Regions from separate parts of the Homo sapiens genome. Here regions 2 and 3 are each reported to be linked to region 1. Evidence: microRNA targets listed by miRTarBase, many of them from high-throughput screens and not tested one by one. Region 1 holds a microRNA gene; each other region holds the end of a gene's coding sequence.

Region 1 (4,246 bases):
GGAGTGCAGTGGTGCGATCTCACCTCACTGCAACCTCTGCCTCCCGAGTTCACGCCATTCTCCTGCCTCAGCCTCCCAAGTAGCTGGGACTACAGGTGCCCACCACCACACCCAGCTATTTTTTTTGTATTTTTAGTGGAAATGGGATTTCACCATGTTAGCCAGGATGTCTTGATCTCCTGACCTCAGAATCTGCCCGCCTCGGCCTCCCAAAGTGCCTGGCCTGACATAATATTTTAAAGAATTTTTTTTTTTTTTTTTTTTTTTTTTTAAGAAAGGACCTCGCTCTGTCACCCAGGCTGGGGTATGGTAGCACAATCTTGGCTCACTGCAACCTCTCTCTCCTGGGTTCAAGCCAACCTCCCACCAAAGCCTCTGGAGTAGCTGGGACTACAGGTACACATCACCACACCTGGCTAATGTTTAGTATTTTTTGTAGAGATTTCCTAGGGCTTTCGCCATGTTGCCCAGGCTGGTCTCGAACACCTGAGGGCAATTGATCTCGCCGTCTCAGCCTTCTCAAGTGTTGGGATTACAAGTGTGAGCCACCTGTAATTTCTCTAGTCTAACAGACAGGTAGTAATGTCTCACGGTGATCTTAATTTGCATTTCACTAATGACTAATGATGTTAAACATCTTTTCAAGTGCTATACATTTTCATTTTCTTTGATGAAGTATCTGCTCACATCTGTTGTTCATTTAAAAAACTGTATTGTGGGCCGGGCACAGTGGCTCACACCTGTAATCCCGGCACTTTGGGAGGCCAAGGCAGGCAGATCACCTAAGGTCAGGAGTTCAAGACCAGCCTGGCCAACACGGTGAAACTCCATCTCTACTAAAAATACAAAAAAACTAGCTAGGTGTGGTGGCGCATGCCTGTAATCCCAGATACTCGGGAGGCTAAGGCAGAAGAATCACTGGAACCCGGGAGGCAGAGGTTGCAGTGAGCCAAGATCGCACCACTGCACTCTAGTCTGGGCAACAGAATAAGACTCCATCTCAAAAAAAAAAAAAAAAATTGTATTGCTCGTGTCCTTATTGAGTTGTAACAGTTCTTTATATATTTTAGATACAAGTTCTTTGTCAAATGTTTTGTAGCTTCTGGGGAAAAGAATGAAAAAGAAATTTTAAAAGAAGACAGGCCTGGGACAGTGGCTGGCTGGGTGTGGTGGCTCACGCCTGTAATCCCATCACTTTGGGAGGCCAAGGCAGGTGGACCACCTGAGGTCAGGAGTTTGAGACCAGCCTGGCCAACATGGCGAAATCTCGTCTCTACTAAAAATATAAAAATTAGCCTGGCATGGTGGCATGCGCCTGTAATCCCAGCTACTCAGGAGGCTGAGGCAGGCGGATCGCTTGAACCTGGGAGGCATAGGTTGCAGTGAGCCAAGGTCGCACCACTGCACTCCAGCCTGGGCAGCACAGCAAAACTCCATCTCAAAAACATAAAAAATAAAAATAGAAAAAGACAAAAAAAAAAGAAATAAGAAAAAAATGTTTTGCAAATATTTCTCCCAGTCTGCAACTTGCCTTTCACCTTCTTAATAGGGGCTTTCAAACAGCTAATGCTTTTAATTTTTGATAAAGTACAATTTATGGTTCACATATTTTGTATCCTAAGAAACGTAACCTAAGGTCACAAAGATCTACTGTATTTTCTTCGAGACATTTTATTGTCTTAGATCTATGCTTAGGTTGATGAACCATTTATAGTTAATATTTATATATACAGAGAATAAGATAAGGGTTAAGATTCAGTTTTTTTTCCATATGGATATCCAAGCTCTAAGACCACTGATGTAAAAAGATTGTCCTTTCTCCCTCGAATTACTCAGGCATCTGTAAAAACCTGAAATGTCCATATACTTCACATGAGTCTATTTCTGAATTCTCTTTTTTATTTGGTTAATCTCACACAATCTTACTTGCTGCTTTACAGAAGTCTTGAAGTATGACAAGGTAAGTCTTCCAATTTTGTTCTTTTTCAAAATTCTTTGGGCTGTTCCTAGGTCCCTTGTATTTCTATATAAACTTTAGAATTAGCTCATCAAGTTCTATAAGAAATTGTAGCCTGTTGAGATTTTAAGAGGTATCGAGTTGAATCTACAGATTAGTTTGGGAAGAACTGACTTAATACTTAGTCTTCCAACCCATGTGTATGGCATATCGTTCTTGGGTCTTCTTGAATTTCTCTCAGTATCATTCTTAGTTTTCAATGTACAGATCTTGCATATATTTTGTTAAATTTATCCATAAATTTTTCATCTTTTTTGATCCTATTATAAATGACATTTAAAATTCAATTTCCAATTCTTCTTTGCTGGTATATAAAAATCCAGAAAATGGTTTAGATTTGATCATTAGTTCCAGTAGCTTTTCTTTAGTTTTCTATCTATACAATCATGCCTACAAACAAAGTTTTATTTCTTCCTTTCTAATCTGTCAGTTTTTTTTTTACCTTATTGCACTGTCTTAGATTTCAAGTATGATGCTGAATGAGATAAGTGGAGCAGCAAGTGGTAGTTGCTCTGCCGCCTATAAGGTAGATATTTAAGTGTGACATTTTATGAATTTTCTTGTTTAATTTTTACAACAATCTTACAATGTCAGTACAATTATTTTTATTTATTGAGATGGGGTCTTGCTATGTTACCCAGGCTGGTATTGAACTTCTGGGCTTAAGCCAGCATCTTGCTTGTCTCCTGAGTAGGGCGACTATAGGCATGTGCCACCACACCTGGCTTAAATGTGTCATTTAAAAATTCAGGCCAGGCACAGTGGCTCATGCCTGTAATCCCAGCGATTTGGGAGGCTGAGGCAGGCGGACCACCTGAGGTCAGGAGTTCGAGACCAGCCTGGCCAACATAGTGAAACCCTGTCTCTACTAAAAATACAAGAAATTAGCCAGATGTGGTGGCACGCAGCTGTAATCCCAGCAATTCAGGAGGTTGAGGCAGGAGAAACACTTGAACCCGGGAGGCAGAGATTGCAGTGAGGTGAGATTGTGCTACTGCACTCCAGCCTGGGCAACAGAGTGAGACTCTGTCTCAAAAAAATAAAATAAAATTCAGTTTAGAACAGGGAAAAGAAGTACATGAAGGAGAAGATAGAGAAGCATTTACAATCTAAATGAAAAAGTATACACACACATAAAATAACTTCCAAAACAAACCAACGATTAAAGAAAAATCTAACGAGCCAACCTTACTATTACAGTTTTTGCTACAATGTGGACATGGACTATCTTAATTAAACATGTGGTACACACACATTTCTTAAGACTTTATCTTTTATAGGCTGAGGATGTAGCCTCGCTCCTATATATTCAAAATGGTAGATTCAGCATCATGCTACCTACCTGCATTTGCGACAAGCAACAGGGGCAGTCTTCCTCGCTCTATATCATCTTTAATCAGTTTCTCCAGGAAGGCAACATCCTGGAACCAAAACAAATCATTAAAAAATGAGGTGCCTAGTATAAAAGCTATAAAATGAAAAATTATGACTTGCAAAAGAAGCAGATAACTCTCAAAAGTAATGTCAAATCAATTCTTACTCTTGACAATTTTTCTGTTTTCTCTCATCATAGATGTGAAAATCAAATAGTTTTCCTTGAAGACTAGAAAAATCAGTTAAACAAGATTAAAGGTAAAAACTGTACATATGCAGGAACATTTCTTTGATTTTAAACATTTACATTTAAATGAAATGTTCTCTTAACTCTCCTAAAACAGCCATGAATGTATCTCTACTATTACTCACTGATGTACCTGAACTAGAAAATAAAACTACCTTGACAAAAGAAATAAAAAACTCTAAAATCCATCCCTTCCTTTTCCTTCTGGAATCATTAAGGAGAGATTTATCACCTGCATGTCTGAAATTAAGCAGAACTCAATTCCACGATGACAATGAAGAACCTCATTTTCAAAATCTGCCCATTCATAAATCCAGGCAACAGTGCTAACTCATTAAAAGTAGGAGCTTCAGAAGAAATTTCTGGTGCTTAATTGAGCTGCCATGTTTCTACTTAAAGCAGGCGATACAGTAATTACAAGACTCCTTAAAAGCCAGGTGCTCCTGACCTATATACCAACCAACCTTCATGGACATTCACATATTAACAGAAGCATATATTACACAATGCAAGGGTCCAAGCAATACATCAGTAAGTTACTAATTATCTGGAGGCCAGCAAAAAGAACTTCACTTGAAAGGCAGTTTCCAAACACAATCCCACATGAT
Region 2 (4,246 bases), not on the chromosome of region 1:
GCTCAAGCCAGGTTATTTACGTCATCTAGGCTATCTTAGCAAAGAGCTTTAGAGAAGCTGGATGATCTGAGGCAGAAGTTTGCTCACAGGTTTCTCCTTTTTTTCTGCTAGGCTTGTGGAATATACCCGTGCTGATGGCACAGTTGGCCGAAGAGTGAAGCCCTACATCATTGACCTTGGCTCAGGCAATGGAACCTTCTTAAACAACAAACGTATTGAGCCACAGAGATACTATGAACTAAAAGAAAAGGATGTACTCAAATTTGGATTCAGTAGCAGAGAATACGTCTTGCTCCATGAGTCGTCGGACACTTCTGAAATAGACAGGAAAGATGACGAGGATGAGGAGGAGGAGGAAGAAGTGTCTGACAGCTAGCAAACTAAGAACCCAAACTATTGATACACGGTTTCCTTCTTGGAAGTCTTTGATTGACTCAGAGAGCACTATGGTGGTGGGTCCAGCACTATGGTGCTCTCTGTAATGCCTCTTACTGCCTTAAGTCTTTCCTCTGTTGCTGACCAGATTGTGTTACCATTTGAATACACTGACTAATGTTTGTTAAACTTTTTCTGTGGCACCTTGGCCACATGCCTGCAGGCATTTGTTTTCAGAACAGTCTCACCAATTACAACACACCGTGTTTTAGTAGAAGTGTTGTGGTTTTAGTTGGTGCTTTCAGAACTGCTGCCTAGGAAACTATAAACCCTTGGTTAAGGGGAAATCATGGCTTGTTCTCTTTGTACAGTTACTTTATTTATATAGGTGTTAAGCTTTGTGGACCAGGTGTTTTTCTTTTGGGGCGAACCCCTGAGCAGAGAATCTTACTAGGCTTTGGTTATCACCAAAACAACCTCCAGTATATACCAAAGCTTTGACTTGTTTGAGCTCTTGAGCTTAGAAGTTGATTTTGCACTTATTTTTTTGGGGGGTGGGAATGTACTGCAGTCAGTAAACATTATTGACTGTTTAACTTAAACAGATGCTTTATGGCACCTGCTCAAGCCCGTGACTGTACAGAAGGATCCTGGTTGCTACCAGTGGGTGCTGATTCAGCATCACAAGTGACTGAAATTGGCTGTGGATCTGTTCTTTGTGAAAGAATTCCTGATTTCTCCATGGAGCATGTACACAACAATTTTGATCATATTAACTGTACTTCAGTTTTGCATTTTTATTCAAATGTTATCTCTTTTTTTCTTTGAGAAATAAACTGTCACTGATGTGACAGCGTTCTTTCTTTATTCTAATAACATGTATAGATCTAAAGCAGGTTGTGTTGTTTACATGTTTCTACACATTTCATCCTTTAAAAAGTTGTTGAGAGAGGTTGTATTTACCTTCCCAAGGTTGGAAAGCAGGGGAATTTCCCAGTGTCCTAGTTTTCCACCAGAGGAATATGTGTAAGTAGCAAAGTATTTGCTGCTTACATATAGTGTGTATGTATGTATATATGTAAATTGTGTGTTAAAGAGCTGATACTGATTTTCATATGACAATGTTAGGCAAAGGCCTCCCTGCATTTGAAGAGCAGGTTTTCATTTATATGTATTTTTGGGATAAAAAAATAAAATTTGTAAATATAGCCCCATTTCAAAGAGTAATGCTTTCCTAGCGTAGAGGACCTTGTGTTCATAGGTCTGTTTGCTGCTAATGGAGCCTTCTGTCAGTACTTTTGAGATAAAAGTAGGTAGCTGTTTTAGAGTGTTGTGGGGCAGGTTATATCGTTGGCCTCCAAGTCAGTGGAATAGCAGATGGTGACATGGAGGTGGGTTGTGGGGAAAGGTGGTGAAGCAGCTCAATCAGTGTTACTACTAATTGTTCCTCTTGGGTTGAGACTTAGGATACTATTAAATTTGATTGTTTTCCATTGTTTTTATACCCATGTGTGCTCAGGGCTAAAGATTGGCTAGTGGGAGGGGCAGCTGACTAATGTTCATTCAGAAGAAGTTAAAAGATCCTTTGAAAAGTGAACACTTAATAAGGTCATTAGATGAAACGTAAGTTGGGCCGGGCATGGGCACAGTGGCTCATGCCTGTAATCCCAACACTTTCGGAGGCTGAGGTGGGCAGATCATCTGAGGTCAGGAGTTCAAGACCAACCTGGCCAACATGGTGAAACCCCATCTCTACTAAAAATACAAAAATTAGCTGGGCGTGGTGGCACATGCCTGTTTTAATCCCAGCTACTCGGGAGGCTGAGGCAGGAGAATCGCTTGAACCCGGGAGGTGGAGGTTGCAGCGAGCTGAGATTGTGCCACTGCACTCCAGCCTGGGTGACAGCGAGACTCTGTCTCAGAAAAAAAAAAAAAAGGTAAGTTGAAGAATGTGTTCTACATTGGCCACTGTAACTGCTATTTTCTTCATTTTGGTATGTGCCATAGATCATATATATGTGCTTGTCTGAAAAGTAGGTTTGTTTGGATGAACTTTTCTCTTGATCCAGACTGACGGTTTTCTCTTGAGGGTTTAAGCACTAATCTGGTATCTTACTCTAGGATCTCCTTGTTCAGTCTGTGCTGCAGTAGCACTACTTTGTGGTAGCCTTGAGTTTTGCTACAAACTTCATCCTGGTGGGCACTGTGATAGATGACCACTTTGCCTACATTTTTCAGTAAGAAGTCCTAATTGTTTAGTCAGTTTTTATTTTAGTAGAGGAATAACGTCCTGGATTAAGAAATTCTTTATGCCACATATCTGAGAAGGTGGGTTTTTTTGTTGGTTTGTTTGTTTTGAGATGGCGTCTCACTCTGTCGCCCAGGCTGGAGTGCAGTGGCACCATCTTGGCTCACTGCAACCTCCGCCTCCCAGTTTCAAGCGATTCTCCTGCCTCAGCCTCCCAAGTAGCTGGGACTACAGGCACCTGTCACCAAGCCTGGCTAATTTATATATATAATTTTTATTTTTTATTTTTTTTTAGTAGAGATGGGGTTTCACCATATTGGCCAGGCTGGTCTCGAACTCCTGACCTTGTGATCCGCCCCTCTCAGCCTCCCAAAGTGCTGGGATTACAGGTGTTAGCCACCAGGCCTGGCCTGAGAAGGTGTTTTTTTTTTTTTTTGGTCTTGTTTTCCCTTACCCCTTTCTTTGAAGAAAGGGTGTCAAAAGACATTACCTGCCTCTAAAGCCAGATATCACCAGCAGACTTCTTAAAGTGGACATAATCCTAGAGCTTTCATTCTGTTTAGAAGTTCATGTTCATCTTAGCCATTTGGAACTTCTTCATTCTCTATCTTTTCTCCACGGTGGCTGGGCTTGTCTGCAAATCATTGTGTCAAAATCAAACTATTTTCAAAACAGCCCTTTGCTTCTGAGCCCCTCCCCTAAGTCCTCTGTGGGGGTCCATGATTCTGCAGAGGTATGGGACAGAATCTTCAGATTTTACCCCTTGAGTCTCTTCCTAGTCATATCCTGGTTCCCTCATTCTAATATTGACAAAGGATGACTCATTAAGTGCAACTGGTTATGTAACTTTCAAATACTTTCATTGTGTATGTCAGGATCTGAGGAACAAAATGATGTCATTTAATCGGAATCTAAACGTGACACAAACAACGTGCCAGCAATACCTGCTTGTGAAATAATGTTCTGAGCCCACAGTGTTCCTGGGTATGTGAGTTTATATCAAGTGAAAAGGCTGCTTAATTGACATTAAAGTTTTGGAATGTAAAGCTTCATTTGGTCTCTTGGGTAAAATTTCCAGTGTATTTATCAAATGGGAAACAATTCTAAAAACAGTTGTTCACATTTACTCTAAAGTGAATTAATCCAGTCAGCAATAGTTGCATAAGTTTATGCAGTTGGTTTACAGCTAAGTTAGAAAGGGAGCAATAGCCAGGTGTGGTGGTATGTGCCTGTAGTCCCAGCTACTTGGGAGGCTGAGGCAGGAGGATCACTTGAGCCCAGGAGTTCAAGACCAGCCTGGGTGATATAGTGACACCTCATCTTTTAAAAAAAAAGAAAAACAAATAATTTGGAGATGGGCCGCACCTTGTGGAAGAGATGACAGTTGAGGTATACCTTAGAAAATAGTTTGATTTGGAGTCAGTAGTAAAGGAGGACATCATGCCAGACTGAGCAGTCCAGGGACTAGCAGGACTGCAGTGGACTGTGGATAAGACCCTATAAATTAAGTTGTTTACCTCAAGACCCATGACACGTCAGTGGTAAACCTGGGATGAGAAATCACCTCAGTCCTGGCTCAGTGATCTTCCTGCTGGATTGTTCCTGCCTGCAGAGCTTAGCAGA
Region 3 (4,246 bases), not on the chromosome of region 1:
TTTCATTGTTCTTAAGCTGGTGGCAGATTAGGAGAAAGCAGGAAAATTTCTTCATGGGAATACTGGACCAGTATTAACTAGCACAGCTTTATGCTTTTTCCAACCATCTGTCACCTTTGGAAACAGTATATCAGATGAAGTGCAGTAATGACCATTATGCTGTAAAACATTTAATGTCCTTTTAAAATTTTGTTTATATAGAGCTGGGGCTTTGTGATCATGAAAATTCTCTGTTATACCATGGGTCATTATAATATGAAGGCAAAGAGGGTACTTTGCTTCAATTAGGAGAAACAGTGCACATCTTGCAAAATAGAAGAGACAAACCTTAGAGTGTTTGCTTAGTAATAGCTATTTCAAGACAATTTCTGAACTGTATCTACTGTTTGTTGCTAATGAAAGTTACATATGTTAATAATTTTAGGAATTCGAGAGGAGAAAACAGGAGAGAGAAGAAGCCCAAAGGCAGTACAAAAAGAAGAAAATGGAAGTGTTTAAAATACTGAACAAAAAGACTAAAAAGGGCCAACCAAACTTGAATGTACAAATGGAGTACCTTCTTCAAAAAATACAAGAAAAATGTTAAACATTTTGTTCCTACAGGTTAAAATATCTGCTGCCTATTAGGTTCTTCTGTGACATGTGCCTCCCAGCAGTGAACTAAATTTGTCGACATAAACTGGATTGCTAAACTATGCTAAATATAAGATGTTCACATATTTTTATTATGGTAAAAAATTTTCTAAATATGTTCTACATGTTTCTTATTTATTTGCCTCTGAAGGAAGGTTGGCCTGAAGAACTGAAAGAACCTCTTATTTTGCAAGACAGGCCCAAGCATGTAATACTTTTGTACCATATGAGATTTATATGAAATAAATTTTTTAAAAATAAGGAATCAGAGCTATCAATGAAGCATTTCAATGAAATATTTCAATTTAGTAAACAGTTACGTTGTTTTAAAATTTATTTTAATGATGAGGGAGGCAAAGACTCCTCTTGGACTTTTTATTTATTTTAAGTACATGTTACAGGGTGATGGGTGCTGAAATAAACTGCCCTCACCATATAACAAAGCGACCTTCACAAAGCAGTGAACTCAAAGTCTGATATTTATAAACATTCCCTTAAATGGATGTACATGGCTTGTTAGTCTAAGGTCTTTTAAATAATGATGGAAACCCCACAGTGTCACAGCAAGAATTAAGCTTTCCAGTTCCTATGGACCCTATACTTTAAGAACATTATCTCTGTCTCCCTTGTTGGTACCCTTGTGAGCTGAGATAAGCCACTGGGATAACTGCTTCTCATGCTTTGCAAATTGCAGAAGAATGAGAAAGGCTTGAAATATATATATAGTCATTGTAAGCAAAAAGGGCTGACCAATAATACTTGCCAAATATTGAATAATAAAATTTTATAAATGATAGCAAATACAGTCTGAAATTGCATTAAGATTTTAGGGAGCTCTTTCAGTCTACTAATTTATTCTGCATTTCAAGATCAGTAGAAAGTGCTTAGATAACACTGAACTTAATCTTCATTGCATAGAAAAGCAATGCTTTAGAAATTTGCATTGCACTATATTGCATTTAAAGTAAGCAGCCCAGAAAGCCTAAATTTGGCTACATTGGTGAAGACACATCACATCATGATGGAGGATAAATTATTTCAGTAAATTGCTTTACAATTTTTGTGCATTTTCACTTCTAGACACTTAATCATGACAAAACATGGAAGGAGATCTAGTCCTTTTGAGAGACAAGTGAAAGTCAAATTATATTCATTTTAACGACTTTGTTAAAAGCTACTTTATGCAAAACTTATATTAAGGAGTTACTCTTTAAAATTCCAAAGTTCTTGTAGAGGAATAAATGCCAAGTAATGGTATAATGGGGGAAAAAGTAATCAGTGACAATCAGATAAAGCAAAAGGTTAAGATTTTAGTGTTATCAATGAAGCACCCAGGAAGCTTTTCCTTTTTCGTTTTTTTTTTTTTTATTATCTTGGTGGTGGACAGTCTCCCGCCCACGCTGCAGTGCAGTGGTGTGATCATGGCTCACAGCAGCCTCAAACTCCTGGGCTCAAGTTATCCTGCTCAGCCTCACGAGTAGCTGGGACTACATGTACGTGCCAACACCTGGCTAACATTTTCTGTAGAGATGAGGTCTTGCCAAGTTCAGCCTTGCCTGGGCTGGTTTTGAACTGGCCTCAGGGATCCTTATGGCTCAACCTTGGCCGTACAAAGTGCTGAGATTATAGGTGTGAGCCACTGTGCCTGGCCTATAGGCTTCTTAAGAGGCATGTTTGAGGACCCTACACTAAGGAATTTGGATACTGTAGATGGGCTTAGTAATGGATGTTTTAACAGGCAACCCCAGTGATTCTGCTGGGTTGCTCCTCGCCACACTTAAAAAATGTTGGACCAGGGCCTCAGAGAAGAAAGAGGTTTTGTTTGGTTTAAGAAATCAGAGAAAGTTTCATGTGTGCAATAGCATTTAAGGAAAGCCTTCGAGGTTAAAAAGATTAGAAGTGTAAGAGCATGAGGAAAGTTACAAAGGGAAGCAAGCTTGGTATTATTTAAATATCTAATAAGTAGTTAGAATATATTATTATTGATGGAGGTAATAGTTCCTATCGGTTCCCTATTGTTTCCTTCCATGTGGAGAAGACACCATCATCCAAACACTCATGGTATCTTTACTTCTTGTCCCACTTGTTCCACCCAGGGGAGGTAAAGTAATAAATGATGTCTGGGAGGAGGACCTGGGCTGTCAGCAGAGTGCATGTACTCTTAATTGCTATTCTAATACTATAAGTGAAGAACAGGCTATATTGATAAATGTTAGAAGGGGGATGGATATTTTTGGAAAATATATATAGAAATTTGTGCTATATGGGTTAGTACATCAAGAAATAAAAGAGGAATAAAATTTGAAGGAGCACAACATAGAAAGAGAGAGGCTTAATTGTGGCCATAGCTTATGGTTTCTGGTTTCAGACCTTAATGTATACGTAGGGAGCTTTGATCTTGGTAGTTTGTAGAGGCTTCTATTAGGGCTATTAATTTGACTTTGTAAGTGTGAAGTAGGCTTTTAGTTGCAGTTTTGGCAAGAGGCTTTAAGACTTAAGGCACGTGGGATTTTGACCTAAAAGTTTAGGATATCTTTGTCCAGAGAAATTGGTAATTTCTATAGAGACAATGTGCAATACTGGGCTTTAAGCACATATGCGCAGGCCTCAATGAAGCAGAGTTTGAGTGAGGGTGATGGAGACATATTGGCTTCAGCAAAGACAGAGAATCTGGAAGTGGGGCTCACCCAAATGCTGGCCTCATGGATGTCCTCACCAGATGCCAGCCCAAGGTGAGGCTTAGCAAGCTACTGTAGTGGTGCTGGCATCAACAAAGGCACTGGCATGTGCAAGTGGTCTCATGCAGGCTACTGCAGCTTGACCTTGGCCTACATTAAATATGCATGTGTGAGCAGCAAAGGCCTCACTCATCAGATGCTGCTAACTCGACACCAGAAAACAATTTTATTCGTGGCAAGGATTTAATGATATAAGAAGAAATATTCATAGCTATGCTAGATGTTAATGACTGTATCAGTATTTGCTACTTTTAAAGACATGTGCCTTGGTTGCAATATAAAGTTCTAGAAAAGCTCAAGGTCTAAATTGTTCTGAGAGTCATTGAAATGCTGTGTAAAAGAGAAAATTTTGAATCTGAAGATATTTGAACATACTGGGAAAAGATCAGGTCTCCTTTGACTTGGTGATTGGGACTGGACCACTCCAAATTCTATACTTGGTAAGATAGCATCAGTGTTTCAGATGTCACTTTCTGAAAGAGAAGATAGAGTACCATGCTAAATGCATGGTGAAAAGTTTAACTTGTTGCTGACAAATTTCTTCCAACTTAGTTTAAGTGTGCAGCTCATGTGACTGGCATTCTGATAAGGCTAAAGCCATCACCGGTTATCTTCCTTCCTACTGATTCATGAGTTCCTGCTATAGAGTTTCTGCTACATGTAGTCTTTGGCAATAAATACTACTGAGTTTTGGGAGCATAATTTTGTACAGGATAACTGCCTTTTAAATTTGGTGGGTATAAGGCAAGTATTGTAATTACCTTGGGTGTTTTATTGACTCTCCAGACCTTTTGTAAGTTGAGGCACACCATAGAGTTATTGAACTAATTTAACTTCTGAAGTGCCAAATGAATGTGTTGTATCCATATCCAAAA

The links. The annotated mature microRNA hsa-miR-1972 reads UCAGGCCAGGCACAGUGGCUCA and lies in region 1 at 2,765-2,786, shown strand. An mRNA with a match to its seed (bases 2 to 7 or 8) in the 3' UTR can be bound and repressed. Matches are read on the target gene's strand: a 7mer-m8 pairs with bases 2 to 8, a 7mer-A1 pairs with bases 2 to 7 and ends in A, and an 8mer does both.
Region 2: the mRNA of SNIP1 is a reported target of hsa-miR-1972. Seed matches in the 3' UTR shown: 8mer at 3,030-3,037.
Region 3: miRTarBase lists CCDC59 as a target of hsa-miR-1972. Seed matches in the 3' UTR shown: 8mer at 791-798.

What each region holds. Positions count from the first base shown.
Region 1 is chr16:70,027,629-70,031,874 of GRCh38, forward strand. It overlaps MIR1972-2 (microRNA 1972-2), which reads left to right and starts at 2,718; the gene lies at 2,718-2,794. It also overlaps the pseudogene PDXDC2P-NPIPB14P and the pseudogene PDXDC2P.
Region 2 is chr1:37,533,878-37,538,123 of GRCh38, reverse strand. SNIP1 (Smad nuclear interacting protein 1) reads left to right here. Exons shown (of 4, transcript NM_024700.4): 4 at 112-3,675. The coding sequence ends at 376. LOC105378649 (a long non-coding RNA gene) reads right to left here. Exons shown (of 3, transcript XR_947190.3): 2 at 4,141-4,237. Among named protein-coding and RNA genes, the nearest start is that of SNIP1, 18 kb to the left of the region's middle. RefSeq lists an enhancer at 3,259-4,246.
Region 3 is chr12:82,349,491-82,353,736 of GRCh38, reverse strand. CCDC59 (coiled-coil domain containing 59) reads left to right here. Exons shown (of 4, transcript NM_014167.5): 4 at 425-1,434. The coding sequence ends at 586. Among named protein-coding and RNA genes, the nearest start is that of CCDC59, 6.8 kb to the left of the region's middle.